Regions from separate parts of the Homo sapiens genome. Here region 1 is linked to region 2. Evidence: fine-mapped expression QTL. Tissue or cell type: hippocampus. Region 2 holds a variant in brackets; the other region holds the start of a gene. All regions are shown on one strand. Distances are from middle to middle.

Region 1 (8,000 bases), 96 kb before region 2:
ATGAGAATATTTGCACAAGCCTCCCTCTGGCATTGCAGAGCCTGTCAGTATTAAAGCAAAAAGTAAATTATAAATTATAGGAAATATAAATAAATATTCCACAGGTTTCACAAACCAGTTATATTTCAATGAGATAGATTCATTTTTATTCTATGTATTTAAACCAAATCCATCTCCTGCTGAAAGAACTGGCTACCATTTACCTTCATCAGAATGGTCCTGTTTTCACCATCAAGGACGTCAAGCTGACACTTTCTATCTACCAGAAGTGTTACTACTTCTGCATGGCCATTGGCACAGGCCCAGTATAGAGCAGTCCTACAAGAATGAGAGGCCTTTTAAGGAAAGTTTAGTCCACTGTCTCAAAACATAGAATGATTTATGTAATTGTCAACATTAAATACCATGCTCTTTCTCTGCCTTCAAAACAAATATTTAATATTCTCCTGAAGAAACTACAATATTCCTTCACTGTTATTACTCACTACATTAATGAAAGAGTGCCTGTTTGAACAGAAAGAGCTTGGCCTTTGGATTCAGTTCAACTTGGGCTTGAATATTACTTTAAAGTCTTTCACCTTCTACTATCACTTAACCTTTCTCTGCCTCAATTTTCTCATCAATAAAGTGAAGATGAATACAGTAGTTATCTCACAGGACATCACTGTGATGCCTCATGAGAATATGTGCAATGTATTTGGAAGAATTCCTAGCACATGTAACAGCTCAGTAATTGATAGATAATGTAATTATTTCTACTACTTAACAAAGAAAACATTTTAAGTAAAATGGTACAATTATGCCTAATTTGTGGTATGTTTTAAAGGTTAGAGATAAAGCTATTTTAATAATTCTGAAATACTCTATTTCTCGTATTTTAACATCTCTGACATTGAAATGCCGCTTATAAGTCATTATTTGTTACAAGTATATTTTGCAGAAATTTAAACAATCTTGTATTGGTACATAAATAAGGAGGCATCACACAATTCACCGTGCCTTCCATGAAGTGGAATATGGTATATACAACAGGATGATGGCAGTCTTAGTCATAGGATTAACACTTAAAGAAATTTTAGCTTTTAAGAGTGCTATACAAAAGGAGAGTTGAAATAAAAACAAACTGTTAAAACAAAGTACTTCTTTAATATTTTTAAAACTTCAAGCCAAAGAAAACTTGGGATTCAAGAAGGTATGGCTTATTTTATTCCATGTTTAGATTTACAGAATGTATGTAAATTCATATTTAAATTTATAGAATGCATGTAAATTAGGTATTTCCAATGATTAATATTACTATTTAAAGCTGTTATAAATTTCCAAAATCGTGGTTGGTAGTTATCTTTTACTAGTTTCTTACTTCAGAAGTGTTTTTGTTTTAAAGATGAGAGGAAAATCTTCAATTGAGATTCATTCCTAGTACTCCAACTTTAAATCTCTCACTTTGCTAAGGCTGAGCAGGTAAATGTGAAATTTTTAAGGATGAAAGGATCTTGAGAGTTAATGTATCTTCTACATAATAGGCATTCAGCTTACATGTGATAAATTGATTAAAAGGATAAATACAGTTGAGAAGTTCAATACCTTAAAAAAACTGCTATAAATAAAGCACTTATATTTTCTATTTTATTTTCTTAATAATAAAACTACACTAATTAATCTATAATTATTGACATATATGTAATAAATCTATATATAATAAAAATATGTGTCTAATAAGATGTATATGTAAATCAACAAGCACAGGTAAAAAGATTGTCTTTTGAAGATGCTAAAAGTTCACAGAATATACTAATCCACAAAAAGTAATAATTAAATTACGGAAAGTGAGAAATTATTTTTATTGGTGCAAAATTATATTTCTGCTCTTCCCAAAAATTTTTCATTAATAATAAACTTTTTCTAATAGCATTGTACATGCTCAATGTGGAAATCAAAGATAATAAAAAGGAAAAACATTTTATATTAAACACCCTCAAATAACAAATTTTATCATATTTCATACACAACTTCAGATAACACAAGACTGTAGTCTGTGTGTATGTATAATCAAACTGAACTTTACCCTCACTTGATACACCAGAATACATTTTCAAATGTCACCTATTTCTCTACATATTTCTACCTTCAGTGGTCACATATTATCCCATGCTGTAAATTCACTGAAATGTATTTATAAAAGTCATTATATGAATTCTTCTTAATAATATGGTACTTACCACCAAATTGTCTATTTGAAAAGTTATCTGCAACTTAAACTTTAAACAGCAGTATAAATATCACTGCTCTTTATCCTCACAAACTTTGTAGATAGAAAGCAGTATTTGATTCCTTTTTTAACTTAAATGCCTTCTGTAACCAGGAACACTAAATATTGTTTTCTGTGTGCATAGGTCACTTACAGATCTTAAGAAAATACTTTCCCAATTTTAAATTAGAAGCAAAGTACTATTTTTAGATCTGCAATTTATATCTCTAACTTAAATTGCTCAATTATAATTAGCGGGTTTTTTGTTGATTTAAGTGAATTATCTATAAAATGACGATTTAAAAATCTAATATGTATACACACACTCACATACATGTGTAGTAAATATTTTACAAGTATGCTGCCTTTTATTTTTTCTCATTACAGTTTAATTTAATTTTGTTTTGCTTAATTATCCTTCAGACTGCTTGCTTCTGAGCTTCTTAGAAAGGTGTTGTCAACATAAAAATGTACCTGTGTAAATAGGTATTTATGTTTTCTTCTGGTGCTTTTATCATTTTGTATATTAAAAAAATTTAATCTATATTCCATCAGAAATTTACTTTGTGGCATAAAAATCTAGTTTTCTCCAAAAAGCAGGCATTTCACTTATGAAACTAATTCTTTCCCTACTAGTATAACCTGTGAGCATTATCAAGTTCTAAATTCTTAGATATTTGGGTGTTTCTGGATTTTCTACTCTGTTGTATTCATTTACCTGTCTTTTCAGCTGTTATCAAATAATTTGTGATTTATTTATTTATTTTTGAGACAGAGTCTCACTGTCTCCCAGGCTAGAGTGCAGTGATGGGATCTCAGCTCACTGCAACCTCCGCCTCCCAGTTTCAAGCGATTCTCCCTCCTCAGCCTCCCGAGTAGATGGGCTTACAGGCTCCCGACATCCTGCCTGGCTAATTTTTGTATTTTTGTAGATTTGAGGTTTCACTATATTGGCCAGGCTAGTCTTGAAATCCTGACCTCAGGTGATCCACCCGCCTTGGCCGCCCGAAGTGCTGGGACTACAGGCATGAGCCACGACGCCTGGCCCTTTTTTTTTTTTTTTTTCAAATTTTATTTATTTATTTATTTATTATTATTATTTTGAGACGGAGTCTTGCTCTGTCACCCAGGCTGGAGTGCAGTGGTGCGATCTCGGCTCACTCCAAGCTCTGCCTTCCAGGTTCACACCATTCTCCTGACTCAGCCTCCCAAGTATCTGGGACTACAGGCGCCCACCACCACGCCCGGCTAATTTTTTGTATTTTTAGTAGAGACCGTGTTAGCCAGGATGGTCTCGATCTCCTGACCTCATGATCCACCCACCTCGGCCTCCCAAAGTGCTGGGATTACAGGCATGATCCACCGCGCCTGGCCATGGCCCATTTTGTGCAAATTAATAGCACATTTTGAAATCTAGAAGGGCAAGACTTTTCTACTCCGTTACAAAATGTTTTAAATGTCACCACAATAGTAAAAGACAGCGTGTGTAATTTTAAAAATGTTAAAACGTTGATAACTTTATTTGGTTTATGTAAAACTGATAAAGAACTTGCATCTTCAGAAAAATGAGTCTTCTTAAATTCGAAAACATAAACCATCTTCCCACCTCAAAGTTACCTTCTAAGGTCCCTCAGCAAAGAATATATTTACATAGACATTCATTGATATTGAAATGGATACTGGACTTTATCCAAAAAATTTTTAGCCAAGAAGTTAATATATTATGGGAATTATTTCATTATGCACCATTTCATAATGTATCTAACATCTTTTAAAACCTGTACATTAAAAGTAAAACCCTGTATGTACTTAATTTTATAAGTTAAATCACTTTAAAATTCTCTACACAGTGCTCTGTGAGAGGAAGTGGGAGTGAAGGAGAAAGCAGCTAAAGTTTGGGGTTGATTTTAAGGTGGCCTGTGCCCTCCGCCCTGCAGGGCGCCCTCATCCAAGGCCTGGGGGACCTGCCCGGGAAGAAGGCCAAGACCTCGGGGCCCAGGACGGCCGCCCCGCTGCCCGCCACTCCTCCACCTGCTCCCCTCGTCCCCAGGACCCCCAGGCCCCACTCTGAAGGGGCGATCCTCCCACAGCCTCCTCCTCCTCCTGCAGCCCCGGCTCAGGCAGGGCCTGGTACCTCTTCTTCGCATCTCTTATGTTCAGGTCCATTGTCGTCTTCTTCATCATCCTCTCCAGCTTCCAGGCTTGGCCCCGGGAGGCAGCTTTGTGGATCTTCCTGAGATCCCCATGGTGAATCACGTAAGAGTCGTTGTTGGTGTAGACCAGCTGACTGAAGGGGCTCGGGCGCTCTGGGCCCGTCTGGCCCTTGACAGGGGCGGCAGAGAGCCTCTCCATGGCTGCAGCCACCTGCTAGAGAGAGCCCGTGCCTCCCGCTGCTCGCCCTTCCCCAGTCCCCGCCGCTCGCCCTCGCCCTTCTTCAGTCCCTGCATCCGCCCTGACAAGACTAGAAATCTCAGTCGGGCCAAGCTTTTGGACACTCCAACCTCTCCCGGGAGAAAATGGCTGCGCAAAACCGTTAGGCAGCTGAGCAGAACCGTTAGGCACCTGAGCAGAACCTTTAGGCAGCTGAGCAGAACCGTTAGGCAACAGCGCATGCGCAACTCAGCAGACCTGGGAGACACGCGAGGCAGGAAACCGCCCTGGCTGCGCTTCGCCCAGCACGGCGTGCAGGTGGCACCTGCTACTGAGGCGCTATCGGGCTGGCGGGGCTCCCTGGAGCGGAACGTGGGGGGCTCCCTGCCACATGGCCTGCTTGACAGAGCTGCCCCTGTCCCCTCCTCAACCTGAGATCCAGGAGCTGGGCCCTGGCGCTGGGCATCGTGCAGCCTCCAGGGTGGCGCTGAGCGTCGGTTCCCGGCCTCTTGCAGCCAGGGACCCATCCCTGACTTAGGCGCCTGGAGGCTTCTGGCCCAAGTATCCGCGCGGCTGGTGGCGCTGGCAGGGTCAGGGTTGCAGCCTCTCCTGCCACGTGCCATGTTCAGGTGGCAGCTGCAGCTGAGCCCATGGTAGAGGCTACAGGGTTGGGCCCAGACCGCTGAGCATCGCCGAGTACATCGCCCTTCCACCCGGGGCTCTGCTCTTCCTCGGCTCGCGCTGGCAGCGCAGGCTTGCCACCACTGGGCCCTGTACAGCTGCGGCGATGAGGCTTTGCGGCAGGTTCCCACGATCCTGCAACTGAGGTCCCACTGCCTGACTTAGGCGCAGTGGCGGTGTCCGACCCTGGGGTTCGCCTGCTGGTGGCGCGGACAGGTTCGGGGGTTGCCACCGCTGCTGCCACCTTCAAATGCCAGCTGCAGCTGAGCCCACGGTAGAGGCTGCAGGGCTGGGCCCGACGGCCTGAGGGTAGCCGTGTGGCACACGCCCTCCCACTCTAGGCCCTGCTCTTCCTTGGCTCGCGCCCTGAGCGCTGGTTTGCAGGCTCTGGGCACTGTGCAGTCGCCAGGATGCGGCTGAGCAGCAGGTTCAGCGCCGCCTGGGCCCAGAGGGGAAGAGGGGAGTTTGGGGTTGCTTGGCCGTATTTGCCTGTGCGCCAAGTGCAGGTAGCGGCTACAGTTCTGACAGGCACGGATGGCGGGTCCCGTTTAGAGGGCTTCAAGGTTCCTGAGAGCGCCCGCTGCCAGGCCTCAGGATCCCTTCCTCGTTGACCAGCATCTGGAGTATGGCAGTGGCGCTGGGTCATCTGCAGCCCTCCTGGATGGGGCTGAGCTGCAGTTCTCACCCTTGGACTGAGAGGGAAACTCGGCTGAGTGGAGCAGATGGAGAAACAGTTAAATTGAACTTATCTATAAAGACTTCCAGGCTGGGTGCAGGACCTCATGCCTGTACTTACAGCACTTTGGGAGACCGAGATAGGAGGATCACTTGATCCCAGGAGTTTGAGACCAGCTTAGACAACACAGGGAAACTTTATCTCTATAAAAATAAAACCAATCAGCCAGGCATGGTGGTGCATGCCTGTGGCCCCAGCTACTTGGGAGATTGATTGTGGCAGGATCACTTGGGCCTGGGAGTTCGTGGGTACAGTAAACTGATTGTGCCACAAACAAGGAATGAGAGGTCCTGTTGCTCCCCATCCTTGACAGCATTTGACCTTTTCAGTCTTCTGGATTTTGGTTATTGTTTGATTGTTTGTGCCGCTGCACTCCAAGCCTGGGCAACAGAGACTCTCTCTCAAAATAAATAAATGAAAGACTTCTAGTCACTATATCTTATCTATGTCGAATTGTTTACACATCTAGCTTGAAGAATTAAAACCCACAGAGCCCTCTGATTATGTGATAGGGACCATGTGATTAAAGTGGGTGACCATGTTCTTGCCTCCAGGGGGCCCAAGTCAAGGGATGGGTCCCCAGCTGCAGGAGGGTGGGAATGGATGCTCAGCACCACCCCGGAGGCTACACAATGCCCAGCCCCAGGGCCCAACTCCTGGATCCTGGATCATGAACAAAAACCCAAGAATTGAAGACTTGAGTGTTAGATATGCTCATTTCTGCTGGGATATCATTGCTTCTAGACCGTCTTAGTTTACAGAGCAAAGAAATAAATGTGTGTATACAAAGCTGTGTATACACATAACTATAAATATTTCTAAATGTAATGTGTGTAAGTGTTAGTTCATACTGATGTCTACGACTCAATTCTTTTATCACATGATCATTCCGGCCTTCTCCCCTTGCTTACATGTAACCTCCCACTTTAATAATGAGAAACCAGGCTCCTGTCATTTGTCATCCGTTTGCTTAACTGTCTAGTTCCAATATACATTCATTCTCTATCAATATCAGAATCGCTATCCCATTTCCTGTAGGAGACAGCTATACCAACCAGATCACATGAGTTGTTTGCAGTTTCTCTTCCTTTCAGTCTTCATGCATTTTCTTTGTTTCTTTTTCTTTTTCTTTTTTTTTTTTTTTTTTTTTTTTAAGATGGAGTTCTGCTCTTCTTGCCTTCTTGCCCAGGCTGAGGCTGGAGTGCAGTGGCGTGATCTCGGCTCACTGCAACCTCTACTTCCCAGGTTCAAGCGATTCTCCTGCCTCAGCCTCCTGAGTAGCTGGGATTACAGGCACCCGCCATCATGCCCAGCTAATTTTTGTCTTTTTAGTAGAGATAGGGTTTCACCATTTTGGCCAGGCTGGTCTCAAACTCCCAGCCTCAGGTGATCCGCCCACCTTGGCCTCCCAAAGTGCTGGGATTACAGATGTGAGCCACCACAGAAGGCCCATCCATTTTCTAAGATGCTTATGTCAGCACGTTTTTCCCACTCCCTAGAGTGAAGTGGCTTTATACATTTGTAGTACTTTAGATTTTCTATCACATTCTGCATTCCATCTCAGGATCCCCAGAACACCTACTTTGTTGTTGTTGTTGTTTTAAAATTTGCATATATTAAGTGACATTCTTTGTTTTTTAACAAATGCAGGCCAGGTGCAGTGGCTCACGCCTGTAATCCCAGCACTTTGGGAGGCCAAGGCGGGCAGATCACGAGGTCAGAAGATGGGGACCATCCTGGCTACACGGTGAAACCCCGTCTCTACTACAAATACAAAAACAAAATTAGCCAGGCGTGGTGGCAGGCACCTGTAGTCCCAGCTACTTGGGAGGCTGAGGCGTGAGAATGGCGTGAATCCGGGTTGCGGAGCTTGCAGTGAGCCGAGATCGTGCCACTGCACTCCAGCCTGGGCGACAGAGCAGACTCCGTCTCAAAACAAAAAACAAACAAAAAAAAACGCAAATG
Region 2 (8,264 bases):
ATAGGAGGGCGAATGTCACCGGTCTACACTTGGGGGGACAGAGGGCCCCGTGGGCCCTGCCAGGGAACAGTCATGCACCCCGAGGAGCCCAGAGGCAACCCTGGGGGATTTTGATTGGCAAGTGACGCTCAGACAGGCATAGCCCTGGGAGGAACCCGGGCCGCAAGTGCATTCGAAGAGTCGATGATCAACGTGTCTTGCAGTTCACATTAATTCTCCCAGCTAGCTGTGTTGTTCATTGACACAGGAGCTGAGTGATCCACCACTAAAAGTCATACAAGGTTGATTTGGCGAGGGCACTCCCAACAACGGGAGGCCCTCCTGGCACAGCACGTCACCCAGAGGGGTTACCTCAGGCTGGCCAGTCAGACAGCAACTGGACCAGACTCCAGAGAGGGGTTGGAAGGTTTCACAACACAGAGAGGTGGTGCCGACCACAGTGGGGGGCAAACGCTGACACCACCCCATGGGAGCCCAGGGGTTCCCGCCCCCACAGAGCGGGGTACAGGCCACACGTGCAGCATGCACGACAGCACGATGGCCACTGGGTAAAGCCCCCACCGACATCAGTGGCGACACGCAAGTGTGGCGTGGCCCCAGCTGGCCGGGGGGACGGAGTCGGCAGGGGAGGCGAGGGAGGGGCGGGCCCCTCCTGAACGGACTCCACTGTGGGCCCACTGCACCTGACCCACAGGCAGACCGGCGACCCCTCAAGGGGTCCTTAAACCTCTGCACCAGAATGCGCTAGGTACCTGGATGGCGGGGGCGGATGAGGGGGGTGGGACCGGCATCCGGCCCCCTACCCTCGAGACCCCCTAGCGGGAAGGCTGGGGAGAGCAAGCGGGCCGGGCCGGGCCAGTGGCATGGTTTGGCAGAGGTGACGATGGTGGCAGCGGCAGCGATGGGAACCTGGCCAGCCCCAAAGGGAGTGGGCAGGATGGGGCTGGGACAGTGGGACAGGGCACGATGACAGCCCCAGTGGGGAGGGCACTGAGACCCCCACCCCACCGTGACGCCGAGAACCACCCCCGCGCCCACCGACACACACATGGGGGCCACAGCAGGGGACTGCTCCCCACTGCTCACCAGGCTGCGAGCCATCCAGCCCGCCCCACGACACGCACACACGGTTTCATCCCCACACGCATGTCTCTTTCTACCCCCTCTCTCCCTCCCGAGTTCTCTGGCTCTCGGGGCAGGTGGGGCCATGCAACGAACAAAGGGCACGACTCCGCCCATGCATGCGCCACAGGGGAACACGGTCAGCCAAGGAGGAAGGACATGGCGGCGTCTCCGTGGCTTCGCTCTTCTCTGTTAATGATCCCTCCGCAGGTTCACCTACCGAAACTTTGTTACGACTTTTACTTCCTCTAGATAGTCAAGTTCGACTGTCTTCTCAGCGTTCCGCCAGGGCAGTGGGCTGACCCAGCGGGCTGATCCGAGGGCCTCACTAAACCATCCAATCAGGAGTAGCGACTGCAGTGTGTACAAAGGGCAGGGACTTCATGCAAGCTTATGACCAGCACTTACTGGGAATTCCTCATTCATGGGGAAAAATTGCAATCCCTGATCACCATCGCCAATGAGGTTCAACAGGTTACCCACATCTGCCACATAGGGTAGGCACACGCTGAGCCAGTCAGTGTAGCGCGCGTGCAGCCCTGGACATTTAAGGGCATCACAGACCTGTTATTGCTCAATCTCAGGTGGCTGAACGCCACTTGTCCCTCTAAGAAGTTGGGGGATGCCGACCGCTCCAGGGTCACATAACTAGTTGGCATGCCAGAGTCTCGTTCGTTATTGGAATTAGCCAGACAAATCACTCCAGCAACTAAGGCCATGCACCACCACCCGTGGAATCGAGAAAGAGCTATCAATCTGTCAATCCTGTCCGTGTCCAGGCTGGGTGAGTTTTCCCATGTTGAGTCAAATTAAGCTGCAGGCTCCACTCCTGGTGGTGCCCTTCTGTCAATTCCTTTAAGTTTCAGCTTTGCAACCATACTCCCCTCGGAACCCAAAAACCCAAAGACTGGTTTCTTGGAAGCTGCCCAGCGGGTCATGGGAATAACACCGCCACATCGCCAGTTGGCATCGTTTATGGTCGGAATTACAACGGTATCTGATCGTCTTCGAACCTCCGACTTTCGTTCTTGATTAATGAAAACATTCTTGGCAAATGCTTTCGCTCTGGTCTAAACTGCCAGTCCAAGAATTTCACCTCTAGCGGTGCAATATGAATGCCCCCGGCCGTCCCTCTTAATCATGGCCTCAGTTCCGAAAACCAACAAAATAGAACTGTGGTCCTATTCCATTATTCCAAGCTGCAGTATCCAGGCGGCTTGGGCCTGCTTTGAACACTCTAATTTTTTCAAAGTAAGTGCTTCGGGCCACAGGACACTCAGCTAAGAGCATCCAGGGGGCACCGAGAGGCAAGAAGCAGGGACGGGCTGTGGCTCGCTAGCCCACCCGCTCCCAAGATTCAACTACGAGCTTTTTAACTGCAACAACTTTAATATACGCTATTGGAGCTGGAATTACCACGGCTGCTGGCACCAGACTTGCCCTCCAATTGATCCTCATTAAAAGATTTAAAGTGCACTCATTCCAATTACAGGGCCTAGAAAGAGTCCTGTATTGTTATTTTTCGTCACTACCTCCCCGTGTCAGGAGTGGGTAATTTGAGTGTCTGCTGCCTTCCTTGAATGTGGTAGCCATTTCTCAGGCTCCTTCTCCAGAATTGAACCCTGATTCCCTGTCACCCGTGGTCACCATGATAGGCACAGCGACTACCATAGAAAGTTGATAGGGCAGACATTCGAATGGGTCATCGCTGCCACGGGGGGCGTGCGATTGGCCCGAGGTTATCCAGAAGCACCAAAGCTGGCGGCACCCGACCCCCCGGCCGGGGACGGAGAGGGGCTGACTGGGTTGGTTTTGATCTGATAAATGCACGCATCTTCCCTGTGAAGGGGGTCAGTGCCCTTCAGCATGTAATAGCTCTAGAATTACCACAGTTTTCCAAGTAGGAGAGGAGCCAGCGACCAAAAGAACCATAACTGATTTAATGAGCCATTCGCAGTTTTACTGTACCAGCCCTGCGTACTTAGACATGTATGGCTTAATCTTTGAGACAAGCATATGGTTCTGATAGGATCAACCAGGTAGGTAGAAAGCGGCCTCTGGGACTCGCGAGGATGAGCCCGGCGTCCCAGTTGCGAGATTGGGCGCGGCAGGGCGGGCGATGGGGCGTGGGGGAGGGAGGGAGCAGCTTGGGGTGGTGGGAGGGGGGTGGTGGGGCGGCGAACCGGACATCCCATCCACCCACAGGACACAAAACCCCCCGACGGGCTCACCACTCCCGACCCTTCGTGCCCATGTGCGAGGAGGCCGACCGCCCGACCCGTGTGCGGCAGCCGCGAGGGACCGGCGGCCACTCATGCGCGGAGGGCGCGGGGCGGCCCCGACGTTTGGGCAGCGAAGGAGAGGCGGACCGCGGTGCCTGGGGTCTCACCGCCAGTGGCCTCGGGGCATGAAGGCGGCCCCTCGCGGCACCTGGAGCGGCCGACTGGCCTTCGGCGGGCCTGCGGCTTCCCCACCGCCGCCACTGTCGCGGCCAGCCCCCTGAACCCTCTTCCCTGCACACACTGCTGGCCGACCCCAAACCCTCCGGGTGTCCACCAGGCCCACTCGGGGTGCCGCCGACCTGGTCCCGAAGGCGCACGCCCGGGGACACGGACAACGGGCCAACCAGTGGCTAGCGGCGGCGCCCCACCAGGCAGAGCCGGGTTTGGTCCCAGACGGGGCCACCACAGCCTAAGGCGGTGAGCCGCTCGGGGAGAGAGGATCCGCGGGCAGGGTGGGGGGCACAGACAGGCAAGGCCAGGGACCGCGAGGGCAAGGGCACCTGGGAGCCCGCAGAGGGGCGGCTCGGGGAGAAACCTCAGGCACGGCCGGGCCACCAGGAAAACACGGCCACGGGATCCCACCGCCACAGACAGGAGGGAGGTACCGCAGCGACCCGCCTAGGATGCCGGACGGCCCTCGGCACCACCGAGACCCGCCTCATGAGCCCCAGGTCCCGCCATCAGGACCCCGAGGTGACCTCAGCCACAAACCTAACGCCAGGGCCACGTTGCTCGTTTCTCATCCATCCTCCAACCCGGTCAAGCTCCAGGAGACCGGCATGCCCCCCACTTGGGACGCTTCCCAGGGCCAGGCGGCCCAACCCCGTGCCACGCAAACACGGTCGTCGGCACCGGTCGCTGCTCTGCAGGGGAGCGGGCAGAGAGCCGGCTCACAGCGGAACGGGTCACAAGCCGGACTGAACGCCAGGCACAGCCACCGCTCACGCAGCCTCCCAACCGCTAGGACGCCGGCCCGGCCCGGCGGGATTCTCCCCTGACTCGGAAGGGGAAGGCGCGGGCCACACAGTAGGCGACGAGCTTCCCTGGGTCCCCACCGCGGAGGCTGGCGGAACCCTTGCTTTCCCCCACTCACC[T/C]CATCAAGGGGGAAGTGGAGGAGGGTCCTCTGCAAGCCAGTCGCCACGGCAGCGCTACCATAACGCAAAGAGAGGCGGCAGGCCGGGGGATCCGGTACCCCAAAGGCACACCTCTCAGATCGCTAGAGAAGGCTTTCTCACCGAGGGTGGGTCACACTCCCCACACGCCAGTCGCCCCTCGTCGGGCCCGCAGAGGCGCTCAGGGACGCCTGGGGAAGGGAGGGGGCCTGCGGTACCAGGAAAAATCTGCGTGCGGCAACCTTGAGCCTTCGCGGTCTGGGCAGGGGGCCTGGCCGCTGCGCGTGCGCGCAATCCCCGAAGGGCCCCCTAGTCCACCAGCCTCCTTTCTCCCAGGCAAAGCACCTCCAAGTAAACCCACACACAACCTGTCGGAGGCAGAACGGTAGCCCCTCGGCGGCCGGCCGGCGCACGCGTCATCTGCCCCAGCCCACCGCAATAGCTCACACGGCCCGTGCGCAGCCGCCAGAGGGGAGCACGGGACCTGCGCTCGCCAGATCAGGCGGCACCCTTCCCCGCGTGGGAGGGGCGCGTCTCACTCAACCGCCTCGACCCCCACACCAACGAGCTCCCTCAGGACCCACTGGTGGACATCGCGGCGGTGACCGGAGGAGGGGGCGCTGGGGGTGGGAACCACACACCACCACTCGACCTCGGGCACCTGAGGGATAAGCTGGGGGGTGAAGGGGAGGAGCCGGGCGTGGTAGGCTCACGCCTGTCATCCCCGCACTTTGGGAGGCGAGGGAAGGTGGATCCCTCGATCCAGGCCTTGGCAACATGGTGAAACCTCGTCTCTAAAAAAATACAAAAACTAACTGTTTTCATAAACTGGACTCAAAGTTAATAAATAGATAAGTAGGCCGGGAGCGGTGGCTTACTCCTGTAATCCCAGCACTTTGGGAGGCCGAGGCGGGCGGATCACGACGGTCAGGAGATCGAGACCATCCTGGCTACCACAGTGAAACCCCGTCTCTACTCAAAATACCAAAAATTAGCCAGGCGCCGTGGCGGGTGCCAGTAGTCCCCGCTACTTGGGAGGCTGAGACAGGAGGATGGCGTGAACCCGGGAGGCAGAGCTTGCAGTGAGCCGACATCATGCCACTGCACTCCAGTCTGGGCAACACAGTGAGACTCCATCTCAAAAAAAAAATAATAATAAATAGATTAAAATTGAAAATTTATAAAAAACATAGCTGGCGGGTCTCAAATGCTCATGCCTGTCATCCCAGCACTTTGGGAGGCCGAGGTGGGCAGATCACCTGAGGTGGCCAGTTCGAGACCCGCCTGACCCACATGGAGAAATGCCGTCTCTACTAACAATACAAAATCAGCCGGGTGTGGTGACACATGCCTGTAATCCCAGCTACTCAGGAGTCTGAGGCAGGAGAATCGCTTGAACACGGGAGGTGGAGGTTGCGGTGAGCCGAGATGGTGCCATTGCACTCCAGCATGGGCAACAACAGTGAAACTCCGTCTCAAAAAAAAAAAAAAAAAAAATTAAGCACTGTATTCTGTTATTTTTACTTCCTACCCAGAGAAGAATATAATACAACTGTTGTCTGCCTGCCTGCCTGCCTGCCTGCCTGTGACAGGGCCTCACTCTGTCTTTCTCCCAGACTGGAGTGCAGTGACACCATTATGGCTCACTCACTGTAGCCTCAACCTCCCCAGGGTTAGGCGATTCCTCAAGGGATCCTATGGCCTCAGCCTCCCAAAGTGTTGGGGTTACAGGTGTGAGACACCAGCACCCGACCTGAGTTAATACATCTGGTCTCACTACGTCTTAACCACACACCCATGAAGAACTCAAGTCAAGAGAGAGTCTGAGAGAGGCTCTCAGCATTCTCTCCCGAAAGCAGTGAGGTGGATGGCGGCTGTGTGTCCCGAGCTCCTGTGGTTTTAGGTGGCCACGCATAGAGGAGAGATTTCCAATGTTTCCAGAGATGCGCGAGCCACAGTCTTTCGGGGCATCCGAGTGTGAGATGGGGTTTCTGACAGTGACTTAAGGGCCAGGAAGGGCCAGAATCTGCCAAGGCCCGTGTCCCAGGGTGGGGCCGATGGAACCCAAGGTAGAGGGAGTCAGCGGTCCACACAGAGAGAGCTCCAGCCTTAGGACCCACTGTGCAGACCGAATCAGAATGAAGAGAGTCCTTCGTCCTATATGCCACATCCCTCCACTGAACTTGGGAGCGGATCTGTTTTCCAAACATGAGGTGACTCTCGCTTTGCAATGGATCACAAGGGGCTGGGCTTTCCAGAGTCGGCAGGCTAAAGAAGTCATTCTGGCTCAGCCTCCCCCATCCCCTGGTAACTGGTGAGTTTTTTTTTTATTTTTATTTTTATTATTATTATACTTTAAATTTTAGGGTACATGTGCACAATGTGCAGGTTAGTTACATATGTATACATGTGCCATGCTGGTGTGCTGCACCCACTAACTCCTCATCTAGCATTAGGTATATCTCCTAATGCTATCCCTCCCACCTTCCCCCACCCCACAACAGTCCCCAGAGTGTGATGTTCCCCTTCCTGTGTCCGTGTGTTCTCATTGTTCAATTCCCACCTATGAGTGAGAATATGCGATGTTTGGTTTTTTATTCTTGCGATAGTTTACTGAGAATGATGATTTCCAATTTCATCCATGTCCCTACAAAGTACATGAACTCATCATTTTTTATGGCTGCATAGTATTCCATAGTGTATATGTGCCACAGTTTCTTAATCCAGTCTATCATTGTTGGACATTTGGGTTGGTTCCAAGTCTTTGCGATTGTGAATAGTGCTGCAATAAACATACGTGTGCATAAGTCTTTATAGCAGCACGATTTATAGTCCTTTGGGTATATACCCAGTAATGGGATGGCTGGGTCAAATCGTATTTCTAGTTCTAGATTCCTTTGCCATCCCCATCAAGCTACCAATGACTTTCTTCACAGAATTGGAAAAAACTACTTTAAAGTTCATATGGAACCAAAAAAGAGCCTGCATTGCCAAGTCAATCCTAAGCCAAAAGAACAAAGCTGGAGGCATCACACTACCTGACTTCAAACTATACTACAAGGCTACAGTAACCAAAACAGCATGGTACTGGTACCAAAACAGAGATATAGATCAATGGAACAGAACAGAGCCCTCAGAAATAATGCCACATATCTACAGCTATCTGATCTTTGACAAACCTGAGAAAAACAAGCAATAGGGAAAGGATTCCCTATTTAATACATGGTGCTGGGAAAACTTGCTAGCCATATGTAGAAAGCTGAAACTGGATCCCTTCCTTACACCTTATACAAAAATCAATTCAAGATGGATTAAAGACTTACACGTTAGACCTAAAACCATAAAAACCCTAGAAGAAAACCTAGGCATTACCATTCAGGACATAGGCATGGGCAAGGACTTCATGTCTAAAACACCAAAAGCAATGGCAACAAAAGCCAAAATTGACAAATGGGATCTAATTAAAGAGCTTCTGCACAACAAAAGAAACTACCATCAGAGTGAACAGGCAACCTACAAAACTCGTGAGTTTAAATGAGCTGAGGCTGGCAAGGCCGGAGCCGCTATTGGCGGGGAGGGGGGTGGGCGGGGTGGTGGGGGGTGCCTGAGGCACTGCAGAAAGTGGGTCTGAGCCTCGAGGATGACGGTGTTGCAGGAACCCGTCTAGGCTGCTATATGGCAAGCACTAAACCACTATGCTTACTGAGATGGGGTTTTCCTCGCAGAACGCCTTTATGCAGAAGTACAC

Which allele goes with the higher level. Positions count from the first base shown, and alleles are read on the strand shown. Sizes are in standard deviations (SD) of each study's normalised expression.
With allele T in place of C in region 2, the expression in hippocampus of the gene that starts at base 4,847 in region 1 is higher (large effect, 1.2 SD a copy in GTEx).

Evidence for each region. PIP is the estimated chance that this variant, and not a neighbour inherited with it, causes the effect.
Region 1: it holds the start of ANKRD30BL, and the variant in region 2 is fine-mapped to the expression of ANKRD30BL in hippocampus (GTEx, PIP 0.99). The same link has a PIP of 0.9 or more in cerebral cortex, nucleus accumbens and prefrontal cortex.

Annotation. Positions count from the first base shown.
Region 1 is chr2:132,157,106-132,165,105 of GRCh38, forward strand. It overlaps ANKRD30BL (ankyrin repeat domain 30B like), which reads right to left and starts at 4,847. Exons shown (of 6, transcript NM_001358416.1): 1 at 4,383-4,847; 2 at 204-318; 3 at 1-41. The coding sequence starts at 4,600. RefSeq lists an enhancer at 5,140-5,640.
Region 2 is chr2:132,253,032-132,261,295 of GRCh38, forward strand. It overlaps MIR663B (microRNA 663b), which reads right to left and starts at 4,049; the gene lies at 3,935-4,049. It also overlaps a transcript of ANKRD30BL not described here, the pseudogene LOC107985804, the pseudogene RNA5-8SP5, the pseudogene LOC110467533 and the pseudogene CDC27P1. RefSeq lists a silencer at 2,065-2,359. The variant T/C (reference allele first, on the strand shown) is at 4,499.